Regions from separate parts of the Homo sapiens genome. Here regions 2 and 3 are each linked to region 1. Evidence: fine-mapped expression QTL. A gene starts in region 1. Each other region holds a variant in brackets. All regions are shown on one strand. Distances are from middle to middle. Region 1 holds the start of CTXND1 (cortexin domain containing 1). Region 2 holds the start of LOC105370918 (a long non-coding RNA gene). Region 3 overlaps CTXND1 (cortexin domain containing 1).

The links. PIP is the estimated chance that this variant, and not a neighbour inherited with it, causes the effect. A credible set is the group of variants that fine-mapping cannot tell apart.
Region 2: its variant is the best candidate, but not a certain one, in a credible set for the expression of CTXND1 in cerebral cortex (GTEx, PIP 0.89).
Region 3: its variant is the best candidate, but not a certain one, in a credible set for the expression of CTXND1 in tibial nerve (GTEx, PIP 0.50).

What each region holds. Positions count from the first base shown.
Region 1 is chr15:80,245,887-80,256,753 of GRCh38, forward strand. CTXND1 (cortexin domain containing 1) reads right to left here and starts at 6,327. Exons shown (of 3, transcript NM_001352888.2): 1 at 6,121-6,327.
Region 2 is chr15:79,475,003-79,485,869 of GRCh38, forward strand. It overlaps LOC105370918 (a long non-coding RNA gene), which reads right to left and starts at 181. Exons shown (of 4, transcript XR_007064729.1): 1 at 72-181. The variant A/AT (reference allele first, on the strand shown) is at 5,873.
Region 3 is chr15:80,189,614-80,200,480 of GRCh38, forward strand. It overlaps CTXND1 (cortexin domain containing 1), which reads right to left. Exons shown (of 3, transcript NM_001352888.2): 3 at 5,868-10,867. Among named protein-coding and RNA genes, the nearest start is that of FAH, 42 kb to the left of the region's middle. RefSeq lists an enhancer at 7,630-7,799. The variant G/A (reference allele first, on the strand shown) is at 4,584.

The DNA.
Region 1 (10,867 bases):
CTCATGAACACAATTTATTAGGTGTCATTCTCACAGATTCCACTTTTGTAATGAAAATCAAATCAACAACAACACCAGAAAAACACCAGGGAGACAAAACTGGAGGAAATACTAACATGGTAATTATGTGTCTGAGATCATAGGTAGTTTTTATTTTCTTCTTTTATAATTTTCAGTATTCCAAAATTTCCACCTAGCACATCTGTAATTTGTATAATGAGAAAAACATTTTCCTCCCAAAAAGTACACTTAAAAAATAAATGGTAAACATTTCTTGCTCTGAATTCAAAGGACTCAGCTGTTAAGCTACTAAAATCTTTGTCTTCCAAAGAAGCAAATTTTCTGTAATTCCAAAGTTCAATTCATATAAAGGTGGAAAAAATACTATGAGATCAAGTAAGAATAGAGAGAAACTTCCTAGTGTATAGGTTGAAATTGGAGTAATTATGGACTTTTGTTGTGGAAGAGTCATGGTTAAAAGGCACCTGGCCTCAGATCTGGGCTTTGCTGTTTATCCGTTTGTGATTTTTCCTGGGTTGGTACGATGAAGATCGGAGCCACATAAGCCTGGACAGGGAAGCTTTGGCTACTGGCAGTGCTGACAGCCGACTGCGTCATGACATTGGAGGCAGCAGGAAATTATGAAGTGCCCTTGTGTGAAACCCGTTGTGGGAGTTAATGTGTGTCTCTCTATGTTTAGAAGGAGAAAGAGGGCATTCATTTTTCTGCCCAGGCAGAATGAACTGTGGACTTTGGGGATTTGGAGTTTGAGTCAAGCAAGTATGCAAACTGCTAATTTGCCCAAGCTGGGTCAGTGATTCTCAGATTTTAGACTCTAATGTTTATCGTGCCTAATAATCTCTCATAGAGTTTGTTTAAAAATGTCTGTTATCAGCTCTGTGCCAGGAAGTTGCGGTTCAGGGATCTGAGGTTGGGTCCCTGAATCTGCATTTTACAATGAGCCTTACAGTTGATTCTTTGGCCATTTCTGTGCTGCCCACTTAGGGACACTGAAAGGTTTGTCCTCGCAGTCGGATTCAGATGTCACATACATTTTCCCAGGCCTGCTGTGTGACAAGCACGGTGCTGGTTAATTTCATATAGTCTCCTCTGTCAGCCTGTCTTAAAACTTAGGAGGTCAGTATTCCGCTTTCCATTTTACCCATGAGAAAATTGAGGCTCAAAGCAGTCGGGTGGTGTGTCTGTGGTCTCGCAGCTGGAAGTGGTGGAGTTAAGATTTGAAGACAGGTCAGGTGAATTTGACACCAGGAGGTCCCCATGCTCCCCTAGGAGAATATCTCCAAGGCTCCATAATTTGTGAATCCAACTGCTAAGGTGTTGATGACTAGATCTCTCCCTTCCCCATCCTCCCACCACCTTAGCAACATTCCACGTGTAGGAGCTTCCTCAAATTGTCCCTCATCCCCATCAACTATGCTTGTGAGGTGCATAGTTGCACCCCTAAGAGGGGTGCCTTTTGTCTTGTGTGAATAGTCAAAGGGTTAAAGTAAAAGGCTTTGTTGCTGGTCTCCATTGGAGGCAGAAGTCCCCTCCTTGGAATGACAGATGAAGAATGCCTCTTCTGAATTGCAGGGGTTGGGTGCTCCTGGGGAGGGTGGGGAGTGGGAGTGGTAAGGGAGGAATTTAGTCATAGGTCGAGATCTGACCCTTGGAACACTCAAATCCACCCTCCTCACACTAACATAGAAACCCATTATCTTGCTGAGGAGTATCCTCAGAAACCAGAAAAACTGCTGAACAAGAAGACAAATTTTAGGAGAGTTAGATTTCACTGGGCATGCATATTGATTAACAATAATTTCCTTGTTCACATGGAAATGTGGACACCAGGGAGAGGCAGGATTTCACAGTTTAGTTTCCTAAAGGTAGCAACTTTTCTCTGTTCTTCTGCAGACACTGAGAATGAATATATTAACATTTTAACTGGGCCCAGGGAAAGGGAACATGCTTTGACTATCACCGCACAATTCTGCCATACTGTTAATGCTGTTGGAACCCAGGTCACTACTTGGGAGCTGAATCTATAATGACAATTTGTCAAGTCAATTGACCTAGCGAAAAAGTGCACCCCTCTGAAACATCAGCTATCGTAGAGGGCACCAGACTTATCTTCCAAGAGGAGGGTCATCTTGGGAGCTGAACAGCCTACTCTCAATGGAGAGGATGCCCTCCCATGCCCTCCAGGGACCTGAGGCTTGTGGCTCTTCCCGTGCATGGGCCTCATTGCTGTGCCAGCCTAGACTACGCCCTCTCACATACAAATGAACCAACTCTAAAGTCTCATTGTCTTTGATGTCCTGGTCGTACAAGTCATACCTGATTCGATGCAGGCAGCCCAACCTGGGAACAGACCTGTTCCCTCAGGCCTAGTAGCAATGCATCAAGATAGCCTGCGTCTGATGTGGGGAATCTTGGGGCAGGTTTGCCTGCACAGGGGTCATTTCTACAGATGATCCTACGGCTTATAGGAGACGCAGCGGAAAGGGTAAGGAGAGAAAGAAAGGTACATTAGGGAAACAATTTCAGGAGTTTTGCCATCACATTACTCTCCTGGCTTAAAACTCCTCAATCTCTCCCCATTGTCTACAGTACCTAACTAGATACCATTTCCTAAGCCAACTCCAGGCAGTTGTAGAAAAGGATTCTGAGGCCTCGTTCTGGCTCCATGGGAAAGAATATCATAATTGATTAGCAATGTCTGCTCTAGGCAAGAGAGGGAGGTGCGACAAATGTATGCCATTAATTTGCAGTTTTCTAGAACACAGGGAGCTCCGTCTGAGTCAAGAAGCCAGGGTAGCCGGAGGGAACTGGATGTGATCATAAAGGCCATGCAGTGTCAGGCCACTTGTCAGCTATTAATAATATCAGCCTCTAAATAACAGACAGGTGTCAGTATGCCTGCTGCCTCTGGTCAACTCGTGGTAACCACCTGGGCATAGAGATTCATGTCTATGGAAAGAACATTGTATTTTAATTACCCATGTCTGCCACCAGGCTGGGTTGCAGGAGTGGCAGCACAGTTCTCTTTCTTTCTTTTTTTGATTTTTTTTTTTTAATTTGGTAGAGACAGGGTCTCACTATGTTGCCCAGGCTGGAGTATAGTGGTGCAATCACAGTTCACTGCAGCCTTGAACTCCTGGGCTCAAGTCATCCTCCTGCCTCAGCTTCCCAAGTAGCTGGGACTATAGGCATACCACCATGCCTGGCTAATTTTTAAAATTTTTTTGTGGAGATAAGTTCTCACTCTGTTGCCTAGGCTGGTCTCAAACTCCTGGCTTCAAGCGATTCTCTTGCTTTGGCCTCTGAAAGTGCTGAGCCACTGTGCCCAGCCTCAATTCCCTGTCTTTCTGACCCTGCTCCAGTCTCAGGGGAACTCAGCTCTTTTCCATCACGCCATCCTAAGGACAGGGATAGAATGCCATTTTGGGGTCTGTGGGATTCTAACGGGACAAGGGCACTAGGAGTCAGATCTTTTAGAGGAAGAACCCTACTCAGAATCCCAGTTTTCCTACCTCATTTAACCTTGAGTAATTCAAGTTGCTTCTCTGATCATTAATTTCCTTGTCAGGAAAATGGGGATAATAAACCTGATAATTAAATGATGGAATATATAAAATGCTTAGTATATACTAAGGGCTTAATAAATGGAACTGACTTTTAGTAATTGATGATTCTGGGGTTTTACAAATAAGAACTGAAGATAAAAAAGGTGGCTTGCTTAAGGTCATCTGACTTAGTGGCAGAGCCAGGACTAAACACTGATTTGTCCCCCACAAATGCCAGTGTTCTTCTCCCCGGTGTCCACAAGGCAACTGATATTCACAGTGCTGATCTTGAGTTGTCAGGAAACACACAAATTCCCATTCGCTGACTCTCTGATTGTAGAAAGCATGTAATGTGCTTTAGAAATATTTCCATCCCAAACAGTTCTAAATGTTGTCACTTTTAATAGCAAACTTAAGCTATCTAAAAAATTTGCAGACACGGACCGGTTCCAGAGCCTTCAATGTCAAAATTCACAGTCATTATGGTCTTCTTCTACATCAGAACTTATTAGGAGCATTAACCTCAGTCTAGGAACCATGTCAGTTTTATAAACACTGTTCTTTCTATTATGGCAAGACAGGATACTTAAAGGACATTTTCCTTGATACCATTTCATTTTCTATTTACGTCATGAAAATAGTATTGAATTTGGGCAATACTACACACAAACTATTTTAGGGTTGCAGATTTTGAGTCTGTGCTGTAATAGTGTGGCCAGGTAGTGTAAATATTTGTTGGAGAAAGATTAACTAGCAAGGCAGTATATTCAGAATGGCTGCCTCTTTCATTAACCCTGTAAGGAAAGGAACTGGAAAGACACACGCAATTCTGTAAATCACAATTTATAAGCAAGCAGCAATTGAACTTCTAGTTGAGCTAGTTTTTTTTTTTCAGGCCAATTAAAGTTCATATTATTTTTTAAACAACTCCTATTCTGCCATAACTTTATTTTAAATCTGCATCTTAAACATGTAATGGCGAGAAATTTGCTATAATTTTCCACATGTATTTGGGTTAGAGATACATTATGCTCTATGCATTCATTACTTGCATGCCGTTCAAAAATCATAAACAGTGTTACTGGGAAAACTGATTGGGAAATTAATCCTTTGAAACAACAACATATGAATGCAATGATTACACAGAATAAATAAACAGCTTCCCCACAATTTCTCTTTTGGATAAATGTAAAGTCATTAGTTTCAGAACAGTTTTCCCAAGGACGTAAGGTTTTGCTTTTCCTCCGTAATGCCTCCTCAAAGCTGGTACATATCTTATGCTGAGCCATCCCTGAAAAGGTAGCCTTAATCAAAATCTAATCTATAAATCACCTTTAAAGCCTTGAATGTTTGGCTTTATGAGGTCTTACACACACTTTGCAGGTTCGCAAAGACCACAGATCAGATTATTACAATTCCTCTCAAGATGTGGCTTAATGAGGGTGAGGGAAGTATAGAAGACTTCAACTCCAGACCCTCGGAACTAGATCCCCTAGTTCACTGGATACATATTTTATGGAAAAGGGTAAGATTGTATCACAGTGTTAATCCAGAAACTCGAATCCTCTGATTAGAATCAGAGGAGAACTGAGAAGAACCTGCCGGCGGATGCACGAGTGGGTTAGAATGGAACTTCTCCCCACGAAGGCAGCACAGGCTTCGATGGAGCTTTTTTCCTGGGTCCCGAGCCACATCCTGACAGGCCACTGTGGCCCTATTGCACGCCTGGTGAGGCGGTGCATCAGCTTGGATTTTCTAACAGGTTCTTTTCCAGAACTTTTGCTGCGGGCACGGAGACTCTTACCAAATTCGGCTCCATAATACATTCCCCAAAACATTAGAACCCAGGATAGGTCTACGCCTCCACTGATACGGAAAAATATATGAAAGCGTGGATTAGGGTTTTTGCCACAGATGAGAACAAAATCCAACGGAGACTTGACATTTCTTTAGAAAGGCTGCCACCAGCAGAACTTTCCCCAGAAGTTACATCCGTGCTGACCTTCATCAGTTACATTGAGAAAAAATCTGTTCTATGTGACTGTCAGCCACAGGAGAGGGAATTTTAGGCACTGAACGTGACGAGAAGGACTTTCTAACTTTGATTCAGTTTCAACTCACACTCCCCAAACCCCTCAATGGCAGAGAGGCCGAGGATCCCCGAATGGGGAGGTGAGGCTCAGAACAGCGAGGGTGCCTGAGCACAGCACCACACTCTCCCGGTTTCTGAGCCCCGAGCCCCGCAGTGGAACTCGGGCCGCTGCGACGCGGCTCCCGTGCGGCTCCCACCGAGGCTGCTGTCCCCTGCCGCGCGGGTCCGGCCCTCCCCGCCGACCGAGGCGCGCCCCGGGCGCAGTGCCGCCGAGGAGGGGATCGGTCCCAGTGTCCACGCGGGTCTCCTCGCCGCCGCGGCAGGGCTCGGCCCGACTTCAGCGAGCAGATCCTCCGCCTGCGGCCGGTGACCCGCGCGACGCCCCGGCGGCACCGACAATGCTGTGCTCCAGCCCCGCAGGCGCCGCGGCAGCGGGTCCCGGGATGCTCCCGCGGTCCTTACCTGGCGAGGCCCGTCCCGTGCGCTCCCGGGGTCCTGGCTGGGCCGGCGCCGAGCCCAGGGCGACCGCGGATCGCCGGCTACGGCGTTTCCCGGTGACGGGGGCGCGGGCTCGCGGGGCGCGGGGGGCGCTGCCCAGGCCCGGCTCGGCAGGAGTCAGAGCCCCCAGCGGCGCGGGCGAGCCCGGGCCAGCAGCCGAGAGGGGGCTCTGAGCGGAGCCGCGGCCGTCCTGGCATTTTAAAGGCGAGGCAGCTGGACGCTGTTCAAGCGGAAACGCAGAGAGAAACTTCAGCCCCCGGGGCAGAGCGTTGGCAGCGAGGGGAGGGGGCCCAAGAGCTCCTTGCAGGCGCACAAACCAATCTGGGCTATTCCAATATGCTCTTCAAATGCATTTTCTTCAGATATTCTCTTTACAGTTAAAAAAAAAAATCCCCCCAAACAACAACGACAGCAAAACCCTCTCAAAGCCTTCTCCTGCAGTATGCTTCATAGCAAGCCAAACATTTCCATTAAAGTTAGGGGCAAGAGCAGGGGGCCGGTTTGGGACGTCTGGTCAATGCAATCAGACAAGAGAAGGAAATAAGGTGTAAAAATACTGAAGTTGTGCCTTTGTTAAAAAAATATATATTCTATATGTGTGTATATATGTATATATATTATATATATGTGAAGCGGGAGAAAAATGATTACTGTTTGCAGCGGATGTGATTGTGTAGTTGGAAAGTGCAAACTGAAGATTGTTGAAATAATAGCCTTTCCAAGGAATTGGCAGGCTACAAAATAAACATACCAAATTAACGGTGTTCTTGTGCACTTACTAACCATTTTGAAAGGCAAATAAAAAATCCCATTCTCACTAATAGCCAAGCCACAGTAGCTAGGAAAAATAAACTTATCATGAAATGTGAAAGAAAAAAAAAAAAAAACAACCTTCTCTACTAGGGGACTAGAGAAGACTTGAATCTATTATGACGCACGCCTTATTCTTGGGCAAGAAGAAGTAAACACTGTAATCCCATCATGTCCTCTTTATCTGTCAATTCAATGCCATCTCTATCAAATTCCAAGTAGAATTTTCTTTTTAACTTGACATGATTCTCAGTGTCATGTGGAAGAATAAAGAGACCAGGCAACAAAATGTTGATAAGGAAGAGCATAAGGGAAGCTAGCCCTGCTGGATATTAAAATGAAGAAATGCTTGCATGCATAAATGAATAAATGAATAAATAAAATACATTGTTTGAGTGCTTACTATTTAAGGAAGTGCTCTACGTGGATTAATGCATTTTATTCATCACAACAAGCTATGATGCAGGTACTGATACTGCTGCCATTTTCAGATAGGAAATGGAAGCCCAAAAGTGTAAGTATCACACTTACACTTTTGTGTAAGGTCACACAAGTAGGAGTAGGGGATCAGGGGTTTGATGCAGGCGTTCTGCCTGCAAAAACTATGCATCTATGTGCTTCAACCCCATCACACGACACCGCCTCTGTCACAAGGCAAAAACCAGCACATTACTGGTCCGGACATGACTGTTCAATGGAATGGGATGAAGAGCCCAGAATTAGAAGTACATGAGAAACTGTGGTGTTTAAGGTGGTACTTCATGTTAATCAGATAGATAGTTTTTATTTTATTTTATTTTATGTTTGAGACGGAGTTTTGCTCTTGTTGCCCAGGCTGGAGTGCAATGGCACGATCTCGGCTCTCTGCAACCCTCTGCCTCCTGTGTTCAAGCAATTCTCCTTCCTCAGCCTCCCAAGTAGTTGGGATTACAGGCATGCGCCACCACACCTGGGAAATTTTTGTTAGGTACAGGGTTTCACCATGTTGGCCAGGCTGGTCTCGAACTCCTGACTTCAGGTGATCTACCCACCTCTGCCTCCCAAAGTGCTGGGATTACAGGCGTGAGTCACCACGCCTGGCCCAGATAAATAGATGTTTAAATAAATGATATTGGAATAACTAGATAGTGAAAGTGTGGGGATCTCATTTTCTACCTAGTTCCCCAGACCAAAACAAATTCCAGATCCGTCATAAATTGAACATAAAAAACTGAAGTCAAAAAATAATTAGATGAATATATACATAAAAGTCATCATAAACCTAGAATTCTGAAAGCCTTTCTAAATATATCATAAAAGCATAAAGGAAAAGACTGATATATATGATTATAAAATATGCAAATAAATGTCTTCATGGAAAAAGACACCGTAAACGGAATTCAAAAATAAACAACAAACTGGAAAAATATTTGCTATCCATATGAGATGGGGTTACTAAGTTTAACAGAGATATAAACCTGGTTGAATTGGAATTTCAGATAGGCTATGAATAATTTTTTAGTATGATTATGTCCCATTCATCATTTGTCTGAAAGTCAAATTTAACTTGATGTCCTGCATTTTAATCTGAAAGCCCTAACATAACAGCAACATTTTAATGTAGATATCTTACAAAGAACGCTTATAATCATTTTTTTTAAAAAGATGATCACCACAATAGAACAAAGAATAAAAGAGATGAGCGGCCAGTTCACAAAAAAAGAAATATAAATGTCCCAAACAAGAGAAAATAACTGTCCTCTCTAGCAGTGAAATAAATGCAAATAAAAAATTTAGGAAGTTGTACTTTTTACCTACTAGCTGGCAAATTTTAAAATATTGAACAAATTCAGTGCTGCTGAAGGGTCTGGAAAAATGGGCATTCTCTCTCACTGTTTATGAGAATGTAATTTGGTACAATATTTCTAGAAAGCAGTTTGAGGACAAATATCAAATTGAATACTTTATGTACAAGCAAATTCATTTTCAAGAACTTATCTAAAGACATCATCTGACAAGTGGACAAAATATATATAGCAGATGTTTGTTGCTTTGCAGAAATAATTTATAATAGTAGAATATTGGAAACAACCCAAATATCTGTCAATAGGGGATTAGTTATTGAAATATAATTAAATCATAATACTATGCAATGAGACTTACTGTGATGTGTGATGCAGGCATTATTCTTTTTTATTCTTTGTTTTTGAGACAGGGTCTCTCTCTGTCATCCAGGCTGGAGTACAGTGGTGTGATCTCAGTTTACTGCGGCTTGGATCTCTTGGACTCAAGCGATCCTTCCACCTCAACTTCCCAAGTAGCTGGGACTACAGGTGCATGCCAGCACATCTGGCTAATTTTTGTTTTGTTTTGTTTTGTTTGTTTGTTTTTGGTAGAGACATGGTTTGCCATGTTGCCTGGGCTGGTCTCAAACTCTTAAGCTCAAGTGATCCTCCTGGCTTGGCCTCCCAAAGGGCTGGGATTACTGGCATGAGCCACAGTGCTGGGCCGATGCAGGCATTATTCTAAACACTGCCTGTGTAATAACTTGTTTAATCATCAGAACAAAACAAAACAGAAACACTGTAAGAAAGTACTATTAGCATCTCCATTCTGCAGAAGACAAAACACACAGAGAGGCAAGCAACTTTCTCAAGGTCTTATAGCTGGAAAATTGAGGACTAGGATTTAAAGCAAGGTGTTGTCGCTCCAGAGACCACACTCTCAGCTGTTATGCAATGTTGTGTACTGAATGGAATCCCATGATAGCATGCCAGAATAAATGCATCCATAGGGTAGAATACCAAATAGGTGTTAAAAATGACAATATGATTCTGTACTTACTGACATAGAAGATATTTATAACATATTGTTAAGTGAAAAAAGAAAATTTCAAAACCACATACTTATATGATTCCATTTGCATAATGTTGAATCTATTTATATGTGGTTATACATATAGACAGAGAGAAATATCTGGATGAATAATCACTAGCATATTAACAGCCTTCCTTTCTGAGTGATGGGATTTCAGGAGAGTTTTTACTTTCTTCATTGTACTTTTCTAAATGGCTTAGGTTTTGGTATTATGAATATACTTTTTTTTGTTTGTTTGTTTTTGTTTTTTGAGACAGAGACTCTCTCTGTCACCCAGGCTGGAGTGCAGTGCCGCAATCTTGGCTCACTGCAAGCTCCACCTCTCGGGTTCAGGCCATTCTCCTGCCTCAGTCTCCCGAGTAGCTGGGACTACAGGTGCCTGCAACCACACCCGGTTAATTTTTTGTATTTTTAGTAGAGACGGGGTTTCACCATGTTAGCCAGGATGGTCTCGATCTCCTGACCTGGTGATCCACCCGCCTCGGCCTCCCAAAGTGCTGGGATTACAGGCGTGAGCCACCGTGCCTGGCCATGTTTTTTAAATATTTAGAAAAACAGGAAAACAAAATCCTGGGGGGAATTCCCATTTTATGATTCCATGCCTTAGTGTCTTGATAGTCTAGGTTTTCTGCAAGCTTGTTATTTCTCCCTTCAAATTCTGACAGCTGAGATACCTGGCTAGGACTCAGCCTGAAGGATCATGGGAGTTCCCAGCAGCAGGTAAACCCCAAGTATCCCCCATGCACCTCCTGCTGCCTCTGGCTGAATGAAGATCGTGCACTGGGCTATGTCAAGTGAATCTTGCTGCTATCAAAAGGGGTGCTGAGAACATGGGCAGGTCCCACCCATTCTTCATGACTAGTGTCTCATCTGTAATGTTAGATATATAGGTTAGGGCTCTAATTGCAAAATACAGAAATTATTTAATACAACTTACACTGGTTTAAAAAATAAGGCATATTCTCTTGAAGGTTTAGAGAATCCAGAGAGAGTAAGACAACCAAGGCACAGTAAGAACCAAGATGCAATTTACTCTAAAGAACTG
Region 2 (10,867 bases), 770 kb before region 1:
CTAGAATTCAGGCTTCGCAATGGCTCCCACTGGCTTTCTCCAAAGCCTGAATTATTGAGACTTTTCTGTACCTGGATTTGGTTTACATCTTCAGTAGTTCTCATGATGGAAAGGAGGGGGACAAGTTACACGTGGCTTCATACAGAAGTGATACTGCATTACATGAAGAATATTCCAATATCTGAAAAGAAGAAGAGAACTTCAGAGTTTCTGGCCAGAACCAGGTATAGCATTTAAACCTTTGAAACACTGCTTCTTGCAAACACTGTCTCTTGACTTTGACTTGTAGCAGTTTATAAAAATTCCTGAAAGATTCATTAAATCCTGGACACAAAATTATTCATAGAAATTGGCAGCACAAGTTTGAAAATGAAACCGTATTTGCAGTTTCCTTCGCAAATACGGTTTCCTTTCATTTGTCAAGGAAAGCCCTCAATAAATTATACCACATAAGTTACTGGGTAGTCATTCTGTGAATAGAAGAAATGCACTTGGTATTTTCATGCTGGTTACTCATAGTCATGTTCTACATTTTAATGATTCTTGCATAATTTCAGAAATCCCAATGAGGCAGCCTTTCCTAGCTCATTTTCTCTGGACCAATGTTGTTTGATCTGGATGTCCCAGCCAGTCTAATTTAGCAGTTTTGTTGCTTTGTTATTAAAGTTTAGTTTTACTGTTAGCAATGTACTTGTGATCAATATCCTTTCTGATTCAACCTTTTTCCTACCTTTTGGTTTACTCATTTATTTATTTAGTCAACTAATATTTATTGAGCAACTGTAATGTGTAAGGCAGTGGTTTATTGCTGAAGTAGTATTGCCTGCTGTGTCCCCAGAACAACTGACAATGTCTTGTACATACTAGATGCTTAATAAATATTTGTTGAATGAAGGAGTGAATGCATGAATGAATGAAAATCTTTGATCTTCTATCTGTCTTGGAACGTCCATTCTAATGAGTGTGCAGATAACAATCAAATAGGCAAATAAATAACTGTAATCAGCAATGAGGGCAATGACGGAAAGGAAAGGAAACATTGGGAGAGATCAACTTGGAGAGCAACAGAGGAACTTCTTGAGTTAGGGTAGCCAAGGCAGGCTTTCAGGAGGAGGTGGCATGTGAGCAACTGAGGAAGAGGCAACTTGCAGTGAAAAGGTCCTGAGGTGGGAATGAAGATTAGAAAGAAGCCCAATGTGTCTTGAACTTACTGAAGTGGACTAGGGAACATGGTGTGAGGAGAGATTAGTGAAGTAGACAGGGACTAGATTATGTAGGGCTTTGCAGGCCACAATAAGGAGGTGAGGTTTTATTTTAAATATAATTGGAAGCCTTTGGAGACTGCAAGGACTGAAATGAGCTAATCTGTACTCTGATTTATATTTTTATCACATTGCTCTGGCTACAGTGTGGAGAATGGAGTAAAGAGAAGCAAGGGTGGAAACAGGCAGACCAGCAAGTGGGTAATTGCAAACAACACAGGGGAGAGATGGTGGCGGCTTAAACTAGGATGAGACCCTGGAGTTGACCTTGTATCTGTAGGTGCAGCCAGCTGGACTTGCTGATGAGGGCAGTGGGGGAATTAGACAAGTTGATTAAGGAGGGCTTCCTGATTTTTTGCCTTTAGAAACAGGGTAGGTGATGGTGCTATTTAATGTCTTGGAGAAGACTTTGGAAGGAACAATTTGGGGATGGGAAATGGCATCTAAGCCTTTGTTTTAGACATGTCACATTTGAGGTTTATCAGGTCCCTACAGGATGAAGTTTGACATAGCCTTGCCTCTTCTTCTCTGTCTAGATAATTCACCTTTAAGACTCTGTTCGGCATCATTTTCTCTAGGAAGTCTTCTATATCAGTCACTTTAAGCCATGGTATGCTTCCCTAACAAGCAGTTCCCCAAATCTCAGTTACTTATGACAACGGTTTGCTTATTTCCCATGTCACATGTTCATCATGGGTCAGGTGCAGCTGGATTTCATGTCTTCTTAATTATAAGACCCAGGCTGAATGAGCAGCCCTACATCTGGGACATGCGGGTCTCCTGACAGAGACGAAAAGAGACACGGCAAAAGTCCACAATAGTTCTTGGCACACAATCCCTGCATTCACATTTCATTGCCAAGCCATGTCATAAAACCAAGCCCGATGTCTTCAGGTACGAAAATAGACTCCTTGCTCAAGGAAGGTCCTAAGAACATGGTGCCTGGTATGGAAGGGAAGCAGTTATTTTTGAAAAATATTAACTAGCATAGTGCTGGCTAGTGTAGGAGCATGTTAGGTATGCAAATTCTCAGGCCCCACCCTAGACCTGAATCAGAAACTTGCAGGAGATTGGGGCTGGAGGCCCAGTACTTTGTGATTTATACAGCCCTGTAGGTGATTCTAAGTCATGCTCAAATTTGAGAATCACTGATCTCACATACCTGCTGTGACCCTCTTCCTCCACCAACTAGGTCAACAGCATTTCCCTAACATTCACATCCTATCACCGTTGTTACTACATTATGCTATAGTTTGATGCACCGGAACAATTATGCAGAGCCTTGCAGGTTACATTTGCCAACCTAGCTCAGCTCTAGGGGTGCAGTCCATATGCGCTTGGGACCTCTCTTTTGGGGAGGATCAAGTGGTATCTGGGTTCCTAGAAGTCACTATCCTCTGTCTATATATCCTCACCCCAGCCATTGCTCCACCTGCTAGACCGGTCCAGTTGCCGCAGCACACCCAGGTAAAGAATGGTCCTGTGAAACCCCATCTCTACTAAAAATACAAAAACAAAAAAACTTAGCCAGGCTTGGTGGCAGGTGCCTGTAGTCCCAGTTACTCAGGAGGCTGAGGCGGGAGAATGGCATGAACCTGGGAGGCAGAGCTTGCAGTGAGCTGAGATCATGCCACTGCATTCCAGCCTGGGCGACAGAGCGAGACTCCGTCTCAAAAACAAAAAAACAAAAACAAAAAAAAAGAATGGTCCTGGTAACACGGTCTCTGCATACAGGTTGATGCTCCTATAATTTAGCTTTGACCAATCACCTTCTCCTGACTCCTAGCCATCAACCTGGCTCACCGTGTTCTCACTTGACCTCTACTCTGACACCAAGTTAGCAGTGCCATCCGCTTGTCCATCCAGCCTCCTGCCATCCACGTGGCAAGCAACGCTCTGTGGCCAATGCAGGTCTGCTGCTCACCAGTCAGAATAACTGTTCCTTCAGGTCCTAAGACTGGCCAGGTTCCACTCCCGGCCTCTCCTGAACAGATGTATAATTCTTCAGAATACTAGGGGCCCCAATTTGTATTTGGATGGTCAGGAAATACACAGAGAAGGGGTCTTAACTGCTCGTCCTCGTCCAAATCAGGGCTGCACTGTGTCCACCCCAGACTGTGCATTGCACCATGGTGGGTGTTTGGTGAGTACAGAATGCACAGCAGTGATCATCACACTAACGGCATTAACCCTGGTTGAGCACTTAGCATGTGTCAGGTGATCCATTAGTTAATCCTCATAACCATCTTAAGAAATAGAAATGGTGGGCCAGGCGTGGTGGCTCACGCCTGTAATCCCAGCACTTTGGAAGGCCAAGGTGGGCAGGTCACCTGAGGTCAGGAGTTTGAGACCAGCCTGGCCAACATGGTGAAACCTTGTCTCTACTGAAAACAAAATTACCAAAATTGGCCGGGCATGGTGGTGCATGCCTGTATCCCAGCTACTTGAGAGGCTGAGGCAGGAGAATCACTTGAACCTGGGAAGCGGAGGTTACAGTGAGCTGAGATCGCGCCACTGCACTCCAGCATGGGCGACGGAGCGAGACTCTGTTTCAAAAAAAAGAAGAAAGAAAAAAAAGGAGGAGGAGGAGGAGAAACAGTGACTGCCCCTATTTTATAGTTGAGAAAATGGAGGCTCAGAGAGGAATGCCTGAGATTACACAGCTGGTGTCTTGAATCTTGGATTCAAAGCCTGTTTTAAAGTATAGTATATTAATAGAAAATGTAAGATATAAGGCCAATAGCTAGGAAGGTGATTGCCATTAAAAATATAGTTTCCAAGAGAAGGGGGCAGACCATGCCACGAGGTCCACATAGGAAGTACTGGAGTGGGTCAGGAGGCAGAGAGAGAGAGGGAGTTGTGGGTAGGAGCCTTTGTTGTGGTTTTTGAGGGTGGAAGGGGCAAGGTAGTGTAAGCAGACTTAAGACTGACCAGTTCAAACAATTTCATATGGGCTGTCGCTAGTTGTGGCCAAGCCAACAGTGGCCCAGAGTGTAAGAGCCTGATACAAAGGGTGACTGGAGTGTGGCCTCTGGATTGGTTGGTTTGCATTTAAAAAGTGCAGTCACAGGTGAGTTGTTCACTATCACTAAGAACTAGCTAACTCTGGAAGAGGCAGTCCATCCAGGGTCAGAAGGCCCCAGATATCAAAGCATCAGAACACAGAAAATAAAAGACATGGTTAATACAAAGCCAGGCAATCGATTCCAGAGTTGATCCTGCCCTTTGCAACCATTTTTGCCCTGGGGGTGGGTATGCCGGTGTCTGGGAGGGGGTGCGATGCGTGGACCACATTCATCTGTGCTTGTTTCTGTTAGACATTTCCCTGTGGGTTATTCATTAGCTCCCCACTTTAGCCTGGTAAGTGGGGATTATTATTTCAGGCCAAAGAAACCAAAGACATGAGTCTTGCACCAGATCTTCTAACCTGTAAGCAACACAGCTGGGACTTGGACTCAGATTTGAGTGAGGCCAGGTGCTGTACCTCAAAATCCCAAGTGGTGTTTGGCTTGGAGTTTGCACTGGAGGAGGACCTACTGCTCCATGAGCCTAGACAGAACCACTCCCATGGGTTTACACCAGAAGTCTAAATAAATTGGCCCAAACCAGCACATCCCAGCTCAGAGATGACCATGTGACAACGAATACCCAGGAAACTGAAATCAGACAGTTCACAAGAAGATGTGGAAGGGACACAGTCTTTAGAATCAGACAGACACGGGCTTGATTACTGAATCAGCCACTTTCTAAGCTTGAGCAAGCTTCAGCCTCTCTGGGTTTCTGTAAATGGAAACAATAACCTTAAGCTCACAAGTTTTCGAGAGGATTAAATGTAAATCCATATACAAAGCACCCAGCTCATGATAATCACTCAGTAAATGTTAGTTGCCTTCCTCTAATTCAAGGGGCTGTGCCAGGCAGTTGGTCAGCCCAGGAGGACAGACAGGTGGGAAGTAAGGGCCAGGTTGGAAGCCAGTGGTCACAACCACCAGGTAGCCACAGTTCCAAAGGCTGGCAGGCCAGTTGGGACTGCTCAGTGGCTCACCTGAGGGTTTAATGTGAATGTCCTGAGGTTACAAAAACCCTGAATTAGGAGCCCAGAGCCCACAGAGAAAACAGGGAGCAAAGGGACTGCTGGGAAAGAGGTGAACATTGGCTGGAGGAACTCTACATAGGCTTCCAGGGATTTGGCACAAGGGTTCAGGAGTCCCACAAGAGGGAGAAGAGCTCTGACATCATGTTCTGTCATCTGGAAGCAGAAAAGACTGTAGAGAACTGCGCCACAAAGGCAAACACCTTGTCCGGAGTGTGCTTACCAAGGGCAGAATGGAACAGCCAATCTGATGAGCCACTCACTCAGCCCTGCAGCTGTGTATCCATTCATTCACCAGTTCATTCAGCCATTGCCCACTGAGCACCTCTTGTTAATTCTGATGATCAGAGAATGTTAAGAAAAATACAACTTCTATTGCCAGGGAGTTTGAAGTCAGCCACAAGAGACAGATGTGTAAATAAATAATTATAGCACAATGAGATGTGGGTGCAGGCTGTTGGGAGTAAGAGGGTTAAGTAGCTGGAGAATCTAGCACCAGAGACGAGATGGCATATCT[A/AT]TTTATTGCAAGGTGAATAAGAGTTCACCACCAAAAAAAGAAAATAAGAAAGCTGTTTCAAATAGAGATAACAATGTGGGCCAGGACATGGAGACGTATAAAAGGAAGGTATCTTAGGAATACGGAGAAGTTCTGTCCTGCTGGAATACAGAGCTTTTAAGTGAAGTGGAAATAATGGAATGTCAATTTTCCCATCTTACTACTGAAGAAACTGATGCTCGTGGGTTGAGCGTTACACAGAGAATATGTAGTAGAACAGAGAGTCGAGTCAATATTCTTTGCCTCTACATCCCATATTATTTGCATTTCAGCACATTTTCTTTCTGTGGAGTGTGCTTTAACAATTAGTTTGTAAGTCAGTATTTCGGAACTCAGAGTAATTTTCCTATACTACTTCAGCAATGGAAAATTTATCTGAAAAAAAAAGAGTCAAGATATAGATGCAATTACATGTAAATTCAGTATATAAAGGAGGCATTTTATACCTCTAAGGAAAGGATAGATTATTTAGAAAATTGGGTTAGCACAATTGGCTAACCATTTGTGAAAAGCTAGACTAATGCCTTACATCTCTCACCAAAATAAATTCTACATGGCCTAAAGAATTTAATATTAATAAATATAAAGCCATTAAGGTACTGGCAGAAAATATAAGTTAATATAAAGACTTTTTCTATGCATGACACCAAGGAAATTGTACAGAAAGCTTTGATAAATACACCCGCATACGTAAATGAGTCAACTTCTGCTTCTGGCCGTGACAGAGAAACTGACACTGGACTTGTTCTCCCACAGTAAAAATTTAGAAAACTGAATATATAAAATGAATGAAATAATTGTCTTCACGCATGATACAATAGGCAGCACAGGACTGTGATATCTGAATAACAAACAAGGCCATCACTCAGGTCCCCTGGCTATCTGTCTAGGGCACTTTCTGGACCATGATGCGGGGAGACCAGCAGAGCACAGTGATCTTGCTGAGTTGAGAAACAGAGATCGTAGTTTGTGGAGACCTATACAGCTGGACATCAGACCCAGGTACTGGAGGGGAGGGAGCTATTCAATAAGAGAAGCTCCATAAATCTGCATATGCACCCTCTTGAGTCTTCAGTCGAATACTAAATAGCGCATGCTTCAGTGATACTCCACGAGGCTGGACAAAGAACTACTACTGGGTAACTGTAAACTGCACAATTCTCAGAGCTCACAGAGACACGGGAAACATTTGAATTCTGACCAGCCATAATGGGATGAAATAACCGAACTCCCAGTACATTCAGAAGAGACAATGTCAAGGTCATGCTTTAGCAATAGGGCTAAGGTAAACCTAGAGAAAGACTGCTCTAGAATTGTCCTGAACAAGTCTCCAGAAAGCCACGCTGCTCCACAGTACCTTAGCTACCTGACAAGGCACACTTCAGCACATTTTTTTTTTTTTTGAGATGGAGTCTTGCTCTGTTGCCCAGGTTGGAGTGCAGTGGCGTGATCTCAGCTCACTGCAACCTCCACCTGCGTTCAAGCGATTCTCCTGTCTCAGCCTCCCCAGTACCTGGGATTACAGGTGCCTGCCATCATGCCCAGCTAATTTTTTGTATTTTTAGTAAAGATGAGGTTTCACCACTTTGGCCAGGTTGGTCTCGAACTCCTGACCTCAGGTGATCCACCTGCCCCAGCCTTCCAACATGCTGGGATTACAGTCGTGAGCCACCGGGGCGCCCAGCCAGCACTCTTTAAAGTACATCAACACAGTCTAGATACTGAATAATGTAACATTTACAATGTCAAACACACAAAAACTTGATAGATGTGTAAAGAAGCAGGAAAATGTGAGCAAGAAAATTAAACCCATAATTTAAAAAATCCAATATATATAAACCTGAAATGACTGAGATTATGGAAACAGCAGGCACAAATACTTTTAATCAGGTATTATAAATATGCTCAATGATTTAAAGAGGATTTAAAGTTGTTCATTATATTTTTTCATTATGCTTCTAATATCTATATTCTGTAGTGGCATTGCCACTCTCATTGCTAATATTAGTAATGTGTTCTCTCTTTTTCCTGATCAGTCTGGCTAGAGATTTTCCTATTTTATTTATCTTCTTTACAAACCAGCTTTCTGTTTTTGTTTTTTTTAATTTTCTCTATTGTTTCTCAGCTTTTTATTTTTTTTCCATTCTGATTTTCATTGTTTTCTTTCTTCTACTTACTTTAAGTTTATTTACTCTTCATTTTGCTTGCTTCTTAAGGTGGAAGCTAAGGTCATTTATTTGAGATTTGTCTTCTTTTCTAAGATAGGTGTCTAGTGCTATGAATTTCCCTCTAAGTACTGCTTTCATAGCACCCTGCAAATTTTGATACACTGTTTTCACTTTTGTTCAGTTCCTAGTACTTTTAAATTTACCTTTTGATTTTTTTTTTTTTTTTTTTGACCCACAAGTTATTTAGAAAAGGCTTTTGTTTCCAAATAAATTCCAACATTCCTTAAGGGAACTAACACTATTCCCGGCCCCGCTGAGAACTGAATACTGATCCCTCTAATTATTTTGGATTGTTCTTTCCTAGTGTTGCTGCTCAAGGGAGACTCTGAATACATCTGAGTTCTTTCTCTGTGCAACTCTCTTCTCTTCATTACTCCACTGGTGCAATCACATGGCTCACCTTGTTTGTTTCCTGTCTCTCAAGGATTACTGTCCTTTTTTGCCTGATTCCTGTGTATTGAAAACTACAATTTTATCTATTCTGTCTGCTTGTTTTTGAGTTGTTTCATGTGGGAGAACAATCTGTTTGTTATTACTCCATTTTGGTCAGAAGCAGAAGTCCTTACACTATTCACTTTTTAAGCAAAAAATTAACAACAATATATTTGGGATTTATAAAATGTACAAGTAAATTGTTTGACAAAAGTAGCACAAAGTTCTGGTGGAAAGTAATGTAAGTATGTATCTGCAAGGCTTTTACATTATATACGAAGTGGGATTAGACTACTGGAAGATGTATGATAATGTGTTAAAGATGTTTCCTGAAATAGAAAAATCAATATAAAGTAAAACAAAGAAGTATAGCTAATAATCTAGTAAAGGACATAATATGGAATATGAAAATGCTCAGTTAAGAAGGTAAGAAAAGTGGGGGAAAAAAACACAAAAAAAGATGGAACAAAGAAAAAATAACAAAAAGGATAGACTTAAGCCCAACATATTAATAATGACATAGTAAATAGTGTAAACACTCCAATTAAAAGATAGAGATGGCCAGGCATGGTGGCTCACGCCTGTAATCCCAGCACTTTGGGAGGTCGAGGCAGGCAGATCACCTGAGGTCAGGAGTTCAAGACCAGCCTGACCAATACAGAGAAACCCTGTCTCTACTAAAAATACAAAAATTAGCTGGGCATGGTGGTGCATGCCTATAGTCCCAGCTACTCGGGAGGCTGAGACAGGAGAATTGCTTGAACCCGGAAGGTGGAGGTTGCAGTGAGCTGAGATCACGCCATCGCACTCCAGCCTGGGGGACAAGAGCGAAACTCCATTTCAAAAAAAAATAGAGAAAAAAAAAGGCAGAGATTGTCTAATGAATGAAAAAGTAAGACTAAGACTCATCTCTGTCATGTCTACAAGAAACACACTTTAAATCTAAAGATACAGGTTAATAACAAGCAAAAAGATGAAAAAGATATCCCTGTAAATGCTAGTCATAAGGGAGCTGAAATGTCTATGTTAATATCAAAGACTTCTGAGCAAAGAATATTACTAGAAATAAAAAGGGTAGTCCATAATAATAAAAGAACAAATGCTTCAAAAATTCATAGGAATCCTAAATGTGTGTCCATCTAACTATAGATCTTGAAAACTCTTGGAGCAAAAACTGACAGAACTAAAACAAGTAGGCTATTCAAATATTTTGCTTCCTTACTGAATTTTGTCCTTGTATGTTTATTTTAATAATTAATAAAAAAAAAGATATGCTAAAATCTACTATGATTGTGTGTTTTTTCATTTCTTTTCTAAAATTTTATTTCTGTCCATTTTTTTAATATTCTCTGCACCTATGTCATTAAGTGCATAAACATTTATATTTGTTATAACTTTTTGGTGGTTTGACCCTTTTTCATTAAGAAATATTTGCCTTAATTTCTACTCATTCTTCTTTCCTTAAAATCCACTTGGTCTAATGTTGGTCTACTTACATCTGTTTTCTTTTATTTAATGTTTGCATAACATATATTTTTCCCACCCTTTTCTTTTCATTTTTTTTTTTTGAGATGGAGTCTTGCTCTGTTGCCCAGGGTGCAGTGGCACCATCTCGGCTCACTGCAACCTCCGCCTCCTGGGTTCAAGGGATTCTCCTGCCTCAGCCTCCTGAGTAGCTGGGATTACAGGAGCACACCACCACGCCTGGCTAATTTTTGTATTTTTAGTAGAGATGGGGTTTCACTATGTTGGCCAGGCTGGTCTCTAACTCCTGACCTCAAGTGATCCGCCCACCTTGGCCTCCCAAAGGATTATTTTTAATCCAGTATGAAATTCTTTCTATTTTATTTGGTATATTCTACTTACTTTTAATATGATTACTTATAGATTTTGGTTTATATCTATTATTGCTATCTATTTTTTTTTCTACTTAAATGTTATCCTTTTTCTATTCTTTCTTTTCTTTTTTTGGAATAAGTGGGTTTTTTTATTATGCTATGTGAACATCCCAGTTAGGGTGATAGTTATCTCTTTAAGAACACCTTATTTTAGTGATAACATTTATGTGTAACTGGCCTGAAACATGCACTATTTTCTTACTACTGTCTAACATAGATTATCACATTTACCACTTCTCTGACAATGCAAAGATCTTAAAATGCTTGAACTCCATTAATCTACTTCTTTTACACTATTGTTGTTTTATATATTTTATTTATTATTATTATACTTTAAGTTTTAGGGTACATGTGCACAATGTGCAGGTTAGTTACGTATGTATACATGTGCCATGCTG
Region 3 (10,867 bases), 56 kb before region 1:
TTGAACCAAGACAATGTTTTTGAGGACAAGGGAACTTTAAGGATTTTTTCTGTTTTTTTGTTTCGTTTTGTTTTTTAATTTTGAGAAAGGGTCTCACTCTGTCACCTAGGCTGGAGTGCAGTGGCACAATCTTGGCTCACTGCAGCCTTGACTTCTCTGGCTCAGGTGATCTTCCCACCTCAGCCTCCCAAGTAGCTGAGACTACAGGTGCACACCACCATGGCCAGGTGATTTTTTGATTTTTTATAGAGACGGGATCTCACTATGTTGCCCAGGCTGGTCTTGAACTCCTGTGCTCAAGTGATCTTCCTGCCTTGCCCTCCCAAAGTCCTGGGATTACAGGCATGACACACCATGCCTGGCAATTTTGGGGTGTAAAGTATCACAATTAATATTATCTCAAAGATTCCTGACACCAAAATGGATCTCAAAAGTGGTTCTATTTTCACATTTTCTCCCTTTCTTTAGTTTGGAAGCATATTCCCTTTAACACCCCCAGAAAAAGTAATTTGGCAGGGTTGTATCCTGAAGTACTAATTTGTTTTCTGTGTATCCCCTCTCTTTCTGTCCTCTCAGCAAGATTTCCAGGGCTGTGGGAGTATTTTGCTCTCCTTCCTCCTGCAGAGAGGCAGAAAGAAACTCGTGGGAGAGGGACCAAGACTGGATGCTTGCTTGCAAGCCTGTTTTTGTTTTTTAAAATTCTGCTCTTGAAAACTAAATAAGGCTGAGGCCAGTCTTATTTTCAGACTGTTTGCCAACAGCACACCAAAAAGTTGGAGTGACAATTTCTTTCTTGGAGAGGGAATGGAGTAGCATGGCACATCTATTCCCACCAAGGTCATGATCCTGGAAATAAATAGACCTTTGTTGTCTATGATGATTTGATCAATATCTGCCTTCATTGGATTTTCAGCTCCTTGAGGATAGTCTGCTTTTGCTTACTGAAAGTTCATCAGTACCTAGCACGTAAGAGCCGCTCGATGTATACTCATTCAGTAAGTGAATGAATTCTAGGAGAGCACTGGGAGCAGATTGTGTCTTATTGATAGGTCTACTTCTAGCATTTGCAGGGCCTAAGCTGAGAGTGCTCATGGAGTCTCAGTATTTAGGAGGTATAAACAAGCTATACACTGTTAAATAAAATACTTTCTATTCTCCTACCTAGATATGTTTGCTTTCATAATTGCAAAACAAACATATTTGCAAAGTGATGGCTTTTATGTGATTGAAAATTGGTAAAATATACAACTAAACTTAATTATCACCGCACTTGAAGAAAGTCGATGGGATGGCAATGTTTGGATGAGCATTAAAGACATAAATTCATGAATTTTATACTTTATACATTTTTAAAATCAGACTTTAATTTTTACAATTATTTTTCTTTCTTTAATTTCATTAGAATCATTAATTATGCTCTCCTGAGCTTTTCATATAATGTGTGGTTTATTGATGATATAAAAGATTAAAAAGTACATTGAATTATACTTCAGTGTACAAGAAGTAAATATCTTCATCAAAACTCTGTGTTAAAAATTGAAAAATTAAATTTTTCATATGCATTTTCAAAGTTAGTTTTCTTTGAAAATATTCAAAATTATTAATAATAAAAAGCGAGATACAAATAATTAAAGAGCTTTAATATTTAATCTCAAAATTCTTTAAATCAAAATGAAATGTCTAAATTCATTTTTTGAAAATGTAATAAAATCTGTTTTTGTTTTGTTTTTTGATATGGGGTCTCACTATGCTGCCCAGGCTGGCCTCAAACTCCTGGGCTCAAGGGATCATCCTGCCTCAGCCATCTGAGTAGCTGGAATTACAAGCCCGTGTCACTGCACCCAGCTCAAAAAAATTAATTAAATCTTATTAAATATATTTTATAAAAACAAAACTACTTTGCAGTCTTAGTGTTCACTGTCCACTTAGTTGCCAAAGTAAAGAATTAGTATCACTCTTTGTTTAGGTTATGAGACCCATGTGCCAACGAGGGCACATGTTGTGAGTCCCTTCAGAACCACAGATTGGAAATAAAGTTTGGTTTTAAAAATTTATAAAGTAGGTATGTAGTTGATGAATTTATGTCTTTAATTCTCATCCAAATATTGCCATCCCATCAACTCTCTTCAAGGGCAATGATAATTAAGTTCAGTTGCCTATTTTACCAATTTTCAATCATATAAAAGCCAAAAAAGAAAAAAAAAAAGCAAGAAAGTGGATATTTGATATAAATGGGAAATGTCATTTGTTTGGGGAAGAATCAGTTACATTCTGGCTAGGAGGAAGTGTGTAACAAGTTGAATAATCATTCCTTTCTCTTACCTAAGCGCTTCCACTGACATGTCCACCTCCAGGGTTGGACCTGCCACAGTCCTGCGTGACATTCACACAGTCTCTTTTATTCTGGGGACACAGGGCAGGGATGTAAAGAAGAACTCCCCTGGCTTGGACAGTATTACTCATATTTGCAGTACAGGTTGAGCTGCACCAACCTGAGGCCCGAGGGATAGAGGTGCTTGTATGAATTTGAACAAATTGATTTGTATGTGCGTATCTGTTATAAGCTGGGCCCTCTGTGGCATGAGTTCCAAGGAAGCCCCCACTCCATACCTTACCCCAGCCTAAGGGCAATATTGCTTCTTTACCTCCATCTTTGGACCCCACACGGTCTCTGATATTTGTTTTGTAATAGCAGAGACTTGTTCATTTCACACAACTAGTGAGTGGCAGAGCTGAAACTGGATTCTAGAGCTTTCAGCATCTAGGACAACACTCTCCCCATTTATGGTCTAGTGGTATGTGGACTTTGATTTCGGCCTGTGGAAGCAAGATTCTCAAGGGCAGGGCTGTGCTCTATGCATCTTTGTGTCCAAAGCCCCTGTTAGACAGTAGTTGCTTCTAAATGTGTGTGGCATTGTACTCACAAAGTTCCCCGTTTCGTAGCTATAAGCTCAAGCAAACTCTTCTTTCAAATGATATTAGTGCTGTATTTGGTAATCTAAGAGAAGAAAAAAGGAAAAAAAAAAAAAACCTGTGTGCACCAAGGTTGGTCACTGAAGCACTATTTTTGTAGCCTAACTTTCAGCCTCCTGAATGTCATCAAGTCATTTAGCTTTCTGGGGTCTCTCTTCCCTTAATATATATTCGTGGAAAGCTTGAGCTGCTGTCCTATCTCCAAAGTGAAACCGCATATCTCCCCACTTAATGGGATGACTGCTGTGAAATGGAGGTGGCTTCTAAGGGACAGCGTAATCTTTTTTGGGGGTATATGTTGACCAGCAGCCTCTGTATGGTCAGCTGAAGTATTCTCAATTCTGGGGTCCTTCTTAGTTATGTAGATGAGGCAAGTGGACACTCCTTTCCTTGGAAAAAGGGTATAGTTGGATATAACCAGGGTGCCCCTCTCTTTGGTGCAGAAGGGTGGAGAGGGAGTGGACCAAATTGCATAAGAAGTCCAAGGGATGTGAGAAACTGGTATTCCAATCCTCCCTCCTAAATAGTCAAAGTTAGAAAATTGGTTTGGGTGCACTGGTTGGGTCCTGACTGAGGTCTGTTGGCAGGAAGAACACCCAGGGCCCTCTGCAGATTCATCTCCCTTTGTCCCTCCAGATCTATTCTCCATCCTTCCCTGCCCTGCTGTTTGCGCACCTGGAGGCTGACCTCGTTGGACAACATCACCCAGGCTCATGCTCTCTGGCTGCTGGTTAGGATTGGCCAGTGGAGGTGCAGGCAGAGGTTGGAATATAGAGGAATAAAGCAGCAGAGAGCATCATCCTCCTTACTCTTTCCCTGCTGAGCCATGGTTTGGGCAGTGGCTGTGTCCCACTATGTCCTACTGCTCCTGTGGGCAACATAACCACAGTCTTTGCTAGATTCTGGTGCCACTGTTTTCTCCCCAGGCAAGGGGCAGTAATGGCTTCTTATCATTGTTAACCCTGGATTAATCATCAACCCTTACTGATTCTCTTTACCTTACCTGTCCCTCTGAAAATTGTCCCAAAATTAAACCCTCTTCATTGAACCTTTTGAATTTGCCGCTTAAATCCTGATGAATAAAGTCATTGGTATTAAGGGTGACAATTGGACCCATGGAGTGAGGGCTATTATTGTAGAAGTGGCCCCATGGAAGCCCTTGGAACTGCCTCTTTGTGACAAAATAGTAAACCAAAAGCAATTCTGCATCTTCAGGGCAATTGAATTGTGCCCCCTTCAAAGACTTGAGAGATGCAGGACAGGTGGTTCTAATCACATCACTATTTAAGTCACCTGTCTGGCTTATGCAAAAGCCAGGTGGGTCCTACAGATTTTCATAAACACAATCAGGAATTAATGCCATTTCAGGAGTTGTTCTGGATGTGGTATCTTTATTAGAGAAGATCCGCTCAGCCCCTGACACCTGGTGTGCACCTGGTATTGTACCTGGTGACTAGAACAGTAATTCTCAAAAGGTAGGTCTGGATTAGCAGCTTAACCTTGGAATGTGTTTGATGTACAATTTATAGAACTCCACTGAAGACCACCTGAATTAAAAATTCTAGGGGCTTACCAGCTGTGTTAGAATGAGCCGTCCCGGTGATTCTAAT[G/A]CATACTGAAGTTTGAGAACTGTCATATTAGAAATAGTTTCCATTGCATCACAATCAATACAGATAATCAGAAGGAGTTCACCTTCACCTGTTACAAGACTGCGGCACACCCTAAATGCATTACCTCAGGGATCTGCCAATTCTCCTGGTTTCTGTCATATGATATGAGACCCTTATCATCTTGACAGCCCATAGAACTTTATGATTGCCTGCTACATTGATAACATTATGCTAATTGGATCTGGTGAATGAGGACTAGCAAGTGCTGTACTGCCACATGCTTGCCAGAGAGGGGAAGAAAACACATGTGGAGGTTCAGTGACCTGACACATTGGTGAAACTTCTTGGGTTCTAGCAGGCTGAGGCCTGTTGGAATATCCCCACTAAGATGAGAAACATGTTGCTTCACCTTGTGTCTTCCACCATAAAGAATGAGGCTCAGCAGTTGATGGATCTCTGGATTTTTGAGGCAATATATAGAACATTTGTGTGTGTGTCTGATGGATTTACTGGTTACATCATAAGATTGCTGGTTTTGAATGGGGCCCAGAATAATACAGGGCTCTAGAAAAGGTATATCCAGACTGTGATGAAAGCTACTCTGCCATTTGGACCTTAAGATCAGCAGATCCAATAGTGCCAGAAGTATCTGTTGCAAATGGAGTGCTGTATGGAATTCCTAACCATCTCCAATAGGAGAATCACAGTGTTGACCCAACTGAACAGGATGGGAAGAGAGGGTCCAAGGCAGTCTTGGGCAGATATGTGTGAAAAGACATCTTTGAAGGGGCCCTGGGTGTCAAGATATTCAAGAGCCATCTAAATGCCTATCAGAGGGCATCCACTGCAGAAAAGACTCTCAACGATCAGCTGGATAAGATGACCCAACCTGGGGGTGTGAGCCTCTTCCTCTGTCTACTCTGGTGTTTGCTCAATGACATCATGAACAGAGTGACCATAGTGGAAGGGATAGAGGCTATCAACACTATGGGCTTTCCCTTGTGAAGGTCCATTGGTTTCCATAACTTCTGGATATGTAGCCTTCCAATGAATGAGACCAATGCCAAGCCCCTGATATGGCACCATTCCCAGAGATGGGTGGTAGGAGACAGACCAACCGCTTACTTGGTAGCAGGTTGATTACACTGAATCCCTTTCATCATAGAGGGCAGTAGGAATAGACACATATTCCAGATATGGATTTGCCATTCCTGCCCCTCCCTGCCATTTGTGGTGTTTCATTCTTTCATTTTGTGCTGCTAAAACAGAACAACACAAACTGGGTAATTTATAATGAATAGAAATTTATTTGGCTCACGATTTTGGAGGCTGCAAAATACAAGATCAAGGAACCAGCATCTGGTGAGGACCTTCTTGTTGCATCATAAACATGGTGGAAGGAATCACATGGGCAAGAGAGAAAAGAGGACCAAACACCCCCTTCATAACAAACCCACTCTTGAGATAACTGCATTAATCCATTCACTCCGCCCTCATGGCCTAATCACCTCTCATTGGGCCCCAGATCTCAACACTGTTGCAATGGGAATCAAGTTTCCAACATATGAACTTTGGGGGACACATTCAAACCACAGCATATTCATCTCAGCATATCCCACAAACATGGCCTTTAACCAAGAAACCTTAGGTTTTGTGGGTTTGGAAATCTCTAGTGACCAAGAGGAACTGCTTCCACCAGGGAATATAGTTATGGGTCTGTTAAATTGGAAGATGATCTTGTGCCATCTGGGGCTCCTTATGTTGAAATATTGGCAGAGAAAGAGATCACTGCACTGTCAGGATGGTTAACCCCAATATCCAAGGGAAAGTGGGGTTTCTGCTACACAATAGGGGCAAGGAGTACTAGCTTTGGAACCCTGGGATTCGCTAGGGCACTTGGTACTCCCTGTATCCCTTGTCCTCATTCTGTAAGCCTGAGGTGGGGGCATGAAATTAGATTTCTAACAAGCTCCCCAGAGATGCCAATGCTGTCCATCCGTGGACCATAGTTTGAGTAGTGTTGCCCTAGAGCACCTGCTATTCTTTCTGATAATTTTACAGAGCTTCCAGGTGAGATCTTCAAGGCCTCTTCATGTTCTTTAGGAATCTGTGGATACTGTGGCAACTCATTGAAGACACGGCACTAAGAATTTGAATCCTCTGTGGATGAAGATTTGGGTCATTCCACCAGATAAAATTCTCCAACAGCTAAGGGACTGCCAGAAAGTAGAGGGGCTATGGAATGGGTGGTGGGAGAACAAGACTGCAGTTACCACTCTGGGCCTCATGACCAGCCACAGAAGGGGGCACTAGCAGTTGTGCTTTACAGGAAGTGTTCCACTTACCCGGGACTGGCTACATTATGATTTAAGTTGCAGGAGGGAGTGGGACTAAATTGCTATCACCCCCAGACAATATGGCTGCTGGTGAGATTTTATGTTTCCCCTGTGCCGGGGACAAAATATTTTTCTCCCATCTAAGCAAAGTTTGTGAATGGCTGCTAAGTGGTAATAAGATGAATTGTGCTGGTTTTTCTTCTTTTGCTCCAGTGTGCTGCCTATGTGGACCGTATCACCCAGGGTCCCCTGACCTTTAGCTTCTGTTGTTTTTGGCCAATGGAAGACCCAGACAGGAGATTGGAGGGCAGGAGGCAAGAGGTCAAGGTATTTATTCCCCCAGCTCTCTTCCTACTGAGCTGCAGTGGGTGCAGGAGTTTTGATCCTCTAGCTGTGGCCAGGGCTTCCATTGGGTGACTCCTTCTCCATGGCTATAGCTCTCCCTGGGTTCTAGATCCTTCTCCTTGTCTCTCTAGGCAAGAGATGGTAACAGTTGGTGGCCTGCCTGTTCCTGGGTAGTTTGTTTTTGTTTTTTATTTTTAGAGACAGCATCTCTCTTTGTCGCCTAGGCTGGAGTGCAGTAGTGTGATCCTAGCTCATTGTAACCTCAAACTCCTGGACTCAAGTGATCCTCCCACCTCAGACTCCTGAGTAGCTGGGACTATAGGTGTGCAACACCACAGCCAGGTAATTTTTTTTTAATTATTTTATTTTTTGTAGATAAACAGATTCTTGCTTATGTTGCCAGGCTGGTTTCAAACTCCTGGGCTCAAGCAATCTGCCTGTGTTGGCCTCCCAAAGTGCTGAGATTACAGACATGAGCTACCTTGCCTTGTCATCCCTGGGTGTTTTACTGTTCCCTGTTGTTTTCCATACCCTTGCCCAACCTCTGTAAATATTCTTTCATTAAACTGTCTTCAATCAGTGCTTCGTGTGTGCCATCTCTTTCCTGCCAAGACACTGAAAAGTCCCAAGGAGAACCCTCCTAAAGGGAGAGAGTCTTTGCTGATGACCATCAAGCTCATAAGTAAGGGCTGGTGTGCCTGAGGCTGTGTGTCCCTCTGGACACAGGCAACCTGTCTTTGTGCTATGATTGGACAGAATAGCTGGGCACATGGATGTGGACCCAGATAACTCTGTTTGGGCACCTCTCCACAGGCTGGGCCACAGGACATTGTGGGTGGTCATTGATCATGCCTGGCAGAACCAGTCCTCAACAGCAAGACCTAGGGGGTATGAAACCACACTAGTGGACACACCAAACTTTGTAGTTCTCTTCACTTGGTGTTTGAAAGCAGGGCCAGCCCCTTTTGGATTGATTTAGCCTCTGAAGTTCTGGAAATTTAATGAGACAGGGAGACACTGATCTTTCAACTCGATAAGAACATGTAGACATTTCAGCAACTAATTGGAAAAAAATGAAATAGCTATGATGGGAATGATATGCCAGGATGGTAAAGCTAGGGTCCTACTATACATATCCACCTGTCTGAGCATCCTTAGAGGCCACATTTCTTCTAGTGACCATCACTCTGAACTCTTGGTTCTGCATATTTCTGCTACCCCACTTGTCTCTGGGACTGTTGGCCCCTTCCAGATTGTATTTCCCTAAGTGACCCACCACCGAGGTGTCTTCATTGTCCCAAAGACCACTGCTGCAGAGTGGTGGATCATTTATCAGACTTTAGAGAGGGCTTGGGGCAACATGAAGGGAGTGTAGCTGAGCACAGTACAAGCAACAACTTAAAACTGGCCACTAGGCACCATTGCCTGGAAAACCCACCACCCATTCTCTGCTTTGGAGAGTTCCTCTCCAGCCTGTGTTCTCCTTAAGTCCTGGGTTGTGGCTACCTTCACAGGCCTCCCATTCTCTAAATGCTTTTCATTTCTTGTCTGCCAACTTCTAGCCTTCAATACTTCTGTGCATTTCTTTTGCAGATCAGTTTATCTTTCTATCCACAACCCCAAAGTTCATCTTAGCTTGCCAGAAACGAGTTGAGACGCTCTGATCACAAAGGACCATCTCCTCTATGCTTCAGCAGCATAATGCAACAACTGAAGCCTGAGATTCCAGTTGCTTTTTTCTCCTTAATATGATCCAGTTCTTAGACAGGTCTCCCTCCCCCATGTGCTCCATGTGTCTCTTAAATGGAGAGAGTGTACTGTAAGTATTTATTCTCCCCTGTCTTAAGCAAGCTCCCCGGCTTCATCATATCTATCTTGATCTTTCTTTTTTTGCTTGGAACATGTACAACAGGGAAAATGGAAGAAATCCAAATATTTAATAATAGGAGTCTACATAATTATATATGTGCACTAGATGTCATGTTTTATGGCCATTAAAATGACAAGTGTGAAGAATGTAGCAGCAACATGAAAGTATACTTGTGATGTAATGTTAGGAGAAAGAGTATGATATAAAATTATGTAGCAGATCATCTTTATGAAAAAAAATCTTGCATGAGGACAATGATTAGAAGGGAATATATGGACACAAAATGAAAATTGCTGTTTTTTGGAGGCTTGGGTTGGGAGTGCTTTTTATATTTTCCACCCTTCCTGAAATGCTACTATTTCCTGTTGCCATCAAACAAGAGTCAAGAGATAAGGTGAAACCCATTAGCAAATCTGAGTGTGGAAAAGAATTAATTAGGACCAAGGGATTCTCAGGCAGTGCTTCTTAAACTTTAACGTGCACATAAACCACCTAGCGAATCTTGCTAATATACATTCTGTACGTAGGTCTGGAGGGGGCTGTGAGTTTGGGTTTCTAACAAGCTCCTCAAGTATTGCAGAGGCTGTTTGTCCTTCAACCACAGTTTAAGTTGCACTGCCCTGGAGCACCCTCTTTTTCACCCCTGAGGGTTCTAAAGTGTGTCGGGGAGGTCTGGAAGACCTTTTCTTTTTCCTGGGGTCTGTTATTAGCTGACTGGGAGTTGGTTCTAGTTTGCATTGTAAATGCATGCTGATGAGCTTTTCACAGAAATGCCTGGCTTCTCAAGGTAGGCTTCAGAGTGAGGGCTGCTGCTGCTGAACCTGAGGCAATGCACAAAAGGCTTTTGCTTTAGATCCTCCCCATCATACAGGGCCTTCCCTGCATCTTGGTTCACTGCCTTTGCCAGCTGTCCCTTCGTGCATTCCACAATAGTGGGGATAGGGGTGGGTAGGAGAGGGGTATGAGAGGGATGACAACTGGATAGCCCCTGAAATGCTGCCTGAAGAGCTGTGGCCTTGTCCACATTCAGGGGTCACCTAGTAGTGATAGTGCTTTGGAACCCATTTTCCAGGTGGCCTGGGCTGTGGTGGGGACTAATGGCTGGGAGGCAGGCAATGAGAAAGAAGTCTTGAGCTTCTTCACAGCTGCAGGTCTCTTGGATGGGGATGGAAGGCCACAGCTTGGAGGGATGGAATAAATGCACTCAGAGGAAGGGGAGCTCAGGTGCTCTCATTTAACTTCGTACCATGTTATGGGAAAACTGATGACAAAGGCAATTATGTAAATTGGTAGACGCCATATCCCTTGAGGTCAGGTGCTGGGAAAGGCTGCTGTGAGTGTTCCTCTGACCAAGTGGTTCCGGCTGGGAGATTTGGCCTGTAGGAAGCAGCCCTCAGAAGTTGAGAAAAGCTGAAGGTGCCAGGCTCTGTAGGGGCAGGGGGCACCCAGAACCTCTGCTCCTCCCAGCTCAGACCCCTGGCTTCTCCTGGGGTGGTGAATTCAAGAACATTCATGTTTGCCCATGTTCTCTCATTTCGTCCTCACAACAACCTTGCGAGGTAGATGTTATTCCCTCACTTTACAGGTGAGGAAATTGGGGCTCAGAGAGGCTGAGTGAGTTATTTGGGGTCCTCTAACAAGGAAGTAGAGGAATTGGGACTTGGGGCCGGTTTTGTAGGCTCTGCTCTAATGATTTTGCTGCAAGGTCATAGATGTAGGTGATGGAGTGGGAG